Linked DNA regions of Homo sapiens: region 2 is linked to region 1. A link means that fine-mapping ties the variant in region 1 to the expression of a gene that starts in the linked region. Tissue or cell type: sun-exposed skin. Region 1 holds a variant in brackets; the other region holds the start of a gene. All regions are shown on one strand. Distances are from middle to middle. Region 1 overlaps TPRG1 (tumor protein p63 regulated 1). Region 2 holds the start of TPRG1 (tumor protein p63 regulated 1).

Evidence for each region. PIP is the estimated chance that this variant, and not a neighbour inherited with it, causes the effect.
Region 2: it holds the start of TPRG1, and the variant in region 1 is the best candidate, but not a certain one, in a credible set for the expression of TPRG1 in sun-exposed skin (GTEx, PIP 0.65).

The regions. Positions count from the first base shown.
Region 1 is chr3:189,304,681-189,307,600 of GRCh38, forward strand. The region is part of intron 4 of TPRG1 (tumor protein p63 regulated 1); the gene reads left to right. Among named protein-coding and RNA genes, the nearest start is that of TPRG1-AS2, 66 kb to the left of the region's middle. The variant T/G (reference allele first, on the strand shown) is at 1,273.
Region 2 is chr3:189,170,765-189,173,684 of GRCh38, forward strand. TPRG1 (tumor protein p63 regulated 1) reads left to right here and starts at 1,207. Exons shown (of 6, transcript NM_198485.4): 1 at 1,207-1,367.

The sequences.
Region 1 (2,920 bases):
CAATGAGCAAAGGAGCATTGAATACCCTCCAGGGTGCCAACTCTGTCCCTGCTTTTGTCCAGATTAAATAAGCAAGAGACTAACATTTCATGGGCCTAGAAGTCTGCCTTTCAACAATACTTGCTCTAAGGTAGGGGGAAAGGAGACATTAAGAAAATAGATCATGTTGTTCTGAGTTGCTCTCTCCCCATCGCCCGCCCGCCTCCTCCCACTCACAGCCTCCCTCTGTTTGCTCACCCATACTTACAAGCACACGCCCTGCGTTTAGAGCAAGAGTTAATGTCTGTGCTTCCTCATAAATCTCGGTTTGGTGCCTCGAGCTATGTTTTTAATTCTGTGGTGGAGCTTTGAGATTTGAGATGAGTAGAAAGGAGGGGCAGCTGATGGAGGTAATAATGAAAGCTGCCATCTTTCCTTCTAGGGAGCTAGGTGTCCTCATTCAGTTTTGCTAACAGGTAGGTTAGTGCCTTAACAGAGACTCTTTGGAGGCCAGGGTAGAAGGAGAGTGAGAAGTCCAGGGAGAGGAAGCCAGCTATGTTGCCCTATGCAAGAGGACCTGTGGCTTCTCTCTGAAGAAAGAAGAATGCACGGAATGAGTATATTAACTCAGACTGAGGACTGACTGGCATATTTTCTAGCTCAGCTAAAAACAACTTGGAGGAGAGGAGTCTTTCCTGTCAAAAATAATTTATTCTCTTACAAAGTTGGTTATCAAAGAATGTGTTTCCTTCTTCCAACCTGTAGCTGCTTTTTGTGTTGTTAAGCCATATTTGTTTTTCATGACTGTGTGCTTTGCCACTAGTATGAGCAGTTTCTACTGTATAAAACTCACCCCTTCAGCATGTCTTTGCTTTTTTTGTGTGTAGAAAGCAAAACTTCTATTGGTCTGCTATGATGATTTAAAGTAGTAATTGCTCTGGTCTTCTATCCTGCCAACAACGGTGTTTGAGTAGAACTCTGAATCTGAGTCACTGAGTGAAACATGTAATTAACATGACTAAAGTAAGAACTGTGATCTTTGAAAACTCTAGTCTCAGTTACATATCTATAAAATCAAAGAATTGGAAACTGACCTCTCCAAAAGGCCTTCCAACTCAGATAGTTTAGGATCCTAAACATCCATGACTATTACAAACCTTCTTCCACCAAGTCCTTATGGGACCCTTCCCCTGCCTCTGCCTCTTTCTGGGAGGCTTTGGAACTTACTAGAAGTAAAGAGTACATTGTCCTTCTTACTTCCACTACTGTGGGAATGGAGGCCAGATCCAGCTG[T/G]TTTCCTTGAGGATAGAAAGTGGGAATAATTGAAATAAGTGATCCTCTATTTCTGAAATGAGACTTGCAAGTTTCTATTTGTGCTTTTTGAGGTCTGGGAACAAATTGATAGTAAAATCGGCTCATAGATTGTCAGATCATGGGCTTACAGAGTTCAGGCACTGAGTCTTATTCCTTTCTCTATACCCTGCATAGAGAATGTGCTAAGAAAATGGTGGAATTGAAAATGGAGAACTTTGGAATGTTTTAGAGGATCAGCTCTGAGGTGATTTAAAAGATTACTTTTAACCCATCAGAAAATATAATTAAGAAGTTAGGCTTATTCAGACTGAAGAAAAGAGAATTGAAGAGCTTATTTAAGCTATCTGAATGGAAGTTTTTCTGATGGATTTAGATTCAAGTAGAAATCTTACATATGAAAACATTGATGGAAAGCAGAAGCTGACACATAAGAAGCATCCTTGGACCCGGATACAGGTGGAAGAAGAGGTATCAATAGGTGAAGACAAGCATAAAACATCCCAATACTTCCTCTGTGCTAGAGATTTGCTTCTCTGGTTTTGTTTATGTCCAGTGATTCTGGTGTTTTTCCTTTCCCTGCCCCTTTTTTAAAATTACATTTCACTAGTGGTTCTTGACTTGATGATCTGATTAAGTCTGGTGATATTCTTTAACTTATTTCCTGTAACTACATCTATGTCTTCAAAAGTAGCTCAAAATTACTATATGGGTTAAATAAAATAAAAAATATAAGATCTCTAACAGTACAGAGTGGGTAGTATGGTTCATAGTAGACACTCAATATATGCTGGTGGGACAGTGCCTTACAGAAACAAAACTTTTTATCATCCGTTATCCTCCTGTTTTTCACAAAATTATTGTGACCTACAGATCAGAAAGGTGGTGTGAAATGCCCAAAGACACAAGCTAGTGAAAGTCATGATTTATACCGAGTATAATTTCAGAAAGAAAACTTCCAAATATTTATTTGCTTGATAATTTGATGTTGGCAACCTTTACTTAGGACTTTAATTAACCCATCATAGCAGCTCAGTGAGAAAGACCCAGTCTTCTTCTTCTTTTTGTTTGAGACAGAGTCTCGCTCTGTTGCCCAGGCTGAAGTGCAGTGGCATGATCTTGGCTCACTGCTACCACTGCCTCCTGGGTTCAAGTGATTCTCCTGCCTTGGCCTCCCAAGTAGTTGGGATTACAGGCTCCCACCACCACACCCGGCTAATTTTTGTATTTTTAGTAGAGATGGGAGTCTCACCAAGTTGACCAGGCTGGTCTCAAACTCCTGACCTCAGGTGATCCACCCACCTCAGCCTTCCAAAGTGCTGGGATTACAGGCGTGAGTCACCGCACCTGGCCAAAGACCCAATCTTCTCACCCTGACAACTTAACTTGTTTGTAATTGTCTCCTTCACATCCAGTGCTTCCTTATTTTCCTATAGTCTCAAAATTGCTCATATTGAGTATATTTAAGAATGCATAGTTTGTTTTGAGACAGAGGTTTTCTTCTGATAACTGACTGGGATCCGTAGGCAGGCTTTTTTCACCCATGAATGATGACAGCCTCCTCAGAGCAATTCTTTTAACTTTGTGTCTATTGGAAATAAGGCTATGTTATGCAATAGCAGGGCTTTAG
Region 2 (2,920 bases), 130 kb before region 1:
TGCCAGTTTGCACTTCATTTCCTGTGGAATCGCTTCATGACCTCAGTATTCCTGGAACTTTAAACAACATTTTTTGAAGGGTGAATATTAGTTATTTTTCTTTTAAAAGAATGGAATTCAACCAATTTACTTTGTCAGCGCACACCCGTTCCTCCAGCCATCAAACAAATACAATCTGATTTGGCCAGAGTCTGCTGAATGAAGTAGAGAATTTAGGATAGAAGATTGAAATTCAATCATACACATAACAGCATTTTGTTTTCTGTGCTCTCCTTTCTTTCAGCAATCCACCTACTTGTGCAGTTCATACTTTATTTTATACCAACTCTGTATGTAGAACACACTTGCTTAGGTTTCAGAATGTGTTCATTAAGATTCTATTTCATTTTTTTAGCACCGTTGCTATGTCAAATCTTATCCTAGGTTTATTCTCATATGCTTCCTTTCAAGTTCTATCTGCATTTCTGAAGGAGAAATGATACTCTCAACTTACAGATGACCAAAATTAAAAAACCTCAGAAAGATAGATTATGACTTGCTATAGGCTGCAAAGCCATTAAATGACAGATCAGGATTCACTAAATAGATATTAATGGATCATCATTAATTCAATGTGTATTTATTTATTACCTACTATCTGCTGGGTGTTTTGAGGAGTATATGAGAGAATAAGATGTAGCATTGCCCTCAAGGGGCCCCCCATCTAGGGAGGGGGATACACACTTACATAGAGACAATATCATGTGGCACATTTCCTAATAGGAATACTGACCAGAGATTGTGTGTACATGTGTTTGTTTTCAGAGATACACTGCTCTACATGTCTTCTACATTTTTGACAAGAGTGGTAGTGATGCTTAAAATCACAAATATCCAATAAATCAAGCCATCATAAAGAATATTAATGATAGGAGTGTAGGCCTCAGGCTTAAGCTTAATTATAACTACTTGGAGGCATACAGAAGCCATGGAGGAATGGATGATAGGCTGCTCCTGCTCCCTCAGCTGGATGTGTATTAGAGGGAGTTGGCAGAAAAATGCAGGACTTCTTGAGGGAGAGGACAGGAGGTAAAGGTGTGTCATTGCAGAACAAGAAAGGCCCCACCCACAAACCCAATTCTCTGCCTCTGACGGGTTGAGTTCCACCCTGTAAACATCCTCAGTCCTTTCATTTGACTATTTGAGGGTGGCAGTGTAACTCTCAGCCTACTTGGTGAAGTGAGATTCAGACTGAGTGGGGTCACAGCACAGGGCACTGTCTTGCCTGGCTTTATCTGAGCCAATCACACCTCTCCTGGCCACTATCTGTGGTCTAGCCCCCTTTGTGCAGAAAGAGAAAGAAGAGCCTTGAGGACCAGCCTAGTCAGGTAAGATCAAGTGGCTTGTCACTGGTTCTGCAGAGATGGGTTATTTCTCTATGAACCAATTGCTTCTGTCCCCTAAGCCGAGTTTCTGGTCACCTCCCCCACTGACTTGCAGTTTGGTTTAGGTTTGTAGTTTTGCATTACCATGTGAAATTTCCCTATTCTTCCTTACTGTCCAGGGTTGATGAGGCTTGTAGGCTAGCATTTTTTAGCCTATAAAGCCACTTGACATACTTATCTATATATTGATTTTGATCTTAACTGCCCTATAGTGCAGTAGGATGGGTATAATTTTCTCCATTTGGTGGCTTAGTGAACTGAAGCTTGGTCAATTGAAGTGATTTGTTCCAATTGGATCAGCAGGTTAAGGCCAAGATTAGATTTGATTCCTTCTTCCCTCTTCCTCTATTATAGAACCCAGCAGGTCATACCTTATCCCCAAAAGCCAAAAGAAGTGAAAAGCCTTTCTGAACCGTTAAATGGCAAACAAAAGGTGATTATTTCTTTGCAGGCAGTTTGAGAGGGTTATTTTTGAATTCATCTGAGGGAAATTTCATAATAATATATAGGTCCCATCAAACAGGGCTGTTTTTAGAGAACAAACGAGGGCATGTATGTAAAGGGGAGTTGTAAACTGAAAGGTGATAGGCAAATGAGACAGCGATGACTACTTGGCGCCTGAGACATCCTCCAGATCTCTGTATAAGCAGGTTTTAATTCGGGGCTAAATGACACTCTCCAAATGTCAGAGGCAGCGTAGTGAGGCACAGATCATACAGGCCCTGGGGAAATATTTTAGCTTTTCAGTCACACTGTGGTATGTAGAAAAGCAAATCTCAATGGGGGAAAAACACCCCCAAATCCTTTCAAATACACTCATGCAATTTCCTCTCTTGTGACAGCTATCATAGTATCTCATTGTTCTACAGTTTTAAGGAAATCTCATCTTCAGTTATTATGTAGTTTACTTTTTAAGATGCTAATTTTAGCTATCATTTTTCTTTTCATGCTCAAAAGGTTATATCATTCTTAGTTGTGGAAGGAAATGTTTCCTCTGTGTGTGTGTGCATGTGTGTATGTGTGTGTGTGTCTGTTTGAGTTTATTATGACAGTACTGATAGTCATCCCTTGGGGCCACCACAAATGCATTGGGTTGTAATGCTATATAATCTTTGGCAGACTTCTATATATTCTTTTTCTTTCTTTTCTTCTTCTTTTTTTTTTTTTTTGAGACAGAGCCTTGCTCTGTTGCCCAGGCTGGAGGGTAGTGGCGCGATCTCGGCTCACTGCAGCCTCCACCTCCCGGGTTCAAGCGATTCTCCTGCCTCAGCCTCCTGAGTAGCTGGGATTACAGGCATGCACCACCACACCTGGCTAGTTTTTGTATTTTTAGTAGAGACGGGGTTTCACCATGTTGGTCAGGCTGGAACTTCTATATATTCTTGGTGTCTTTCTGGCTGTAAGGATCCTGAAGAAATCGTTTAATTGATTACTTTATTCAAAACAGAGAAACTGAGGCCCAGAAAGATGAAGTGATATGCACAAGTCACACAGCC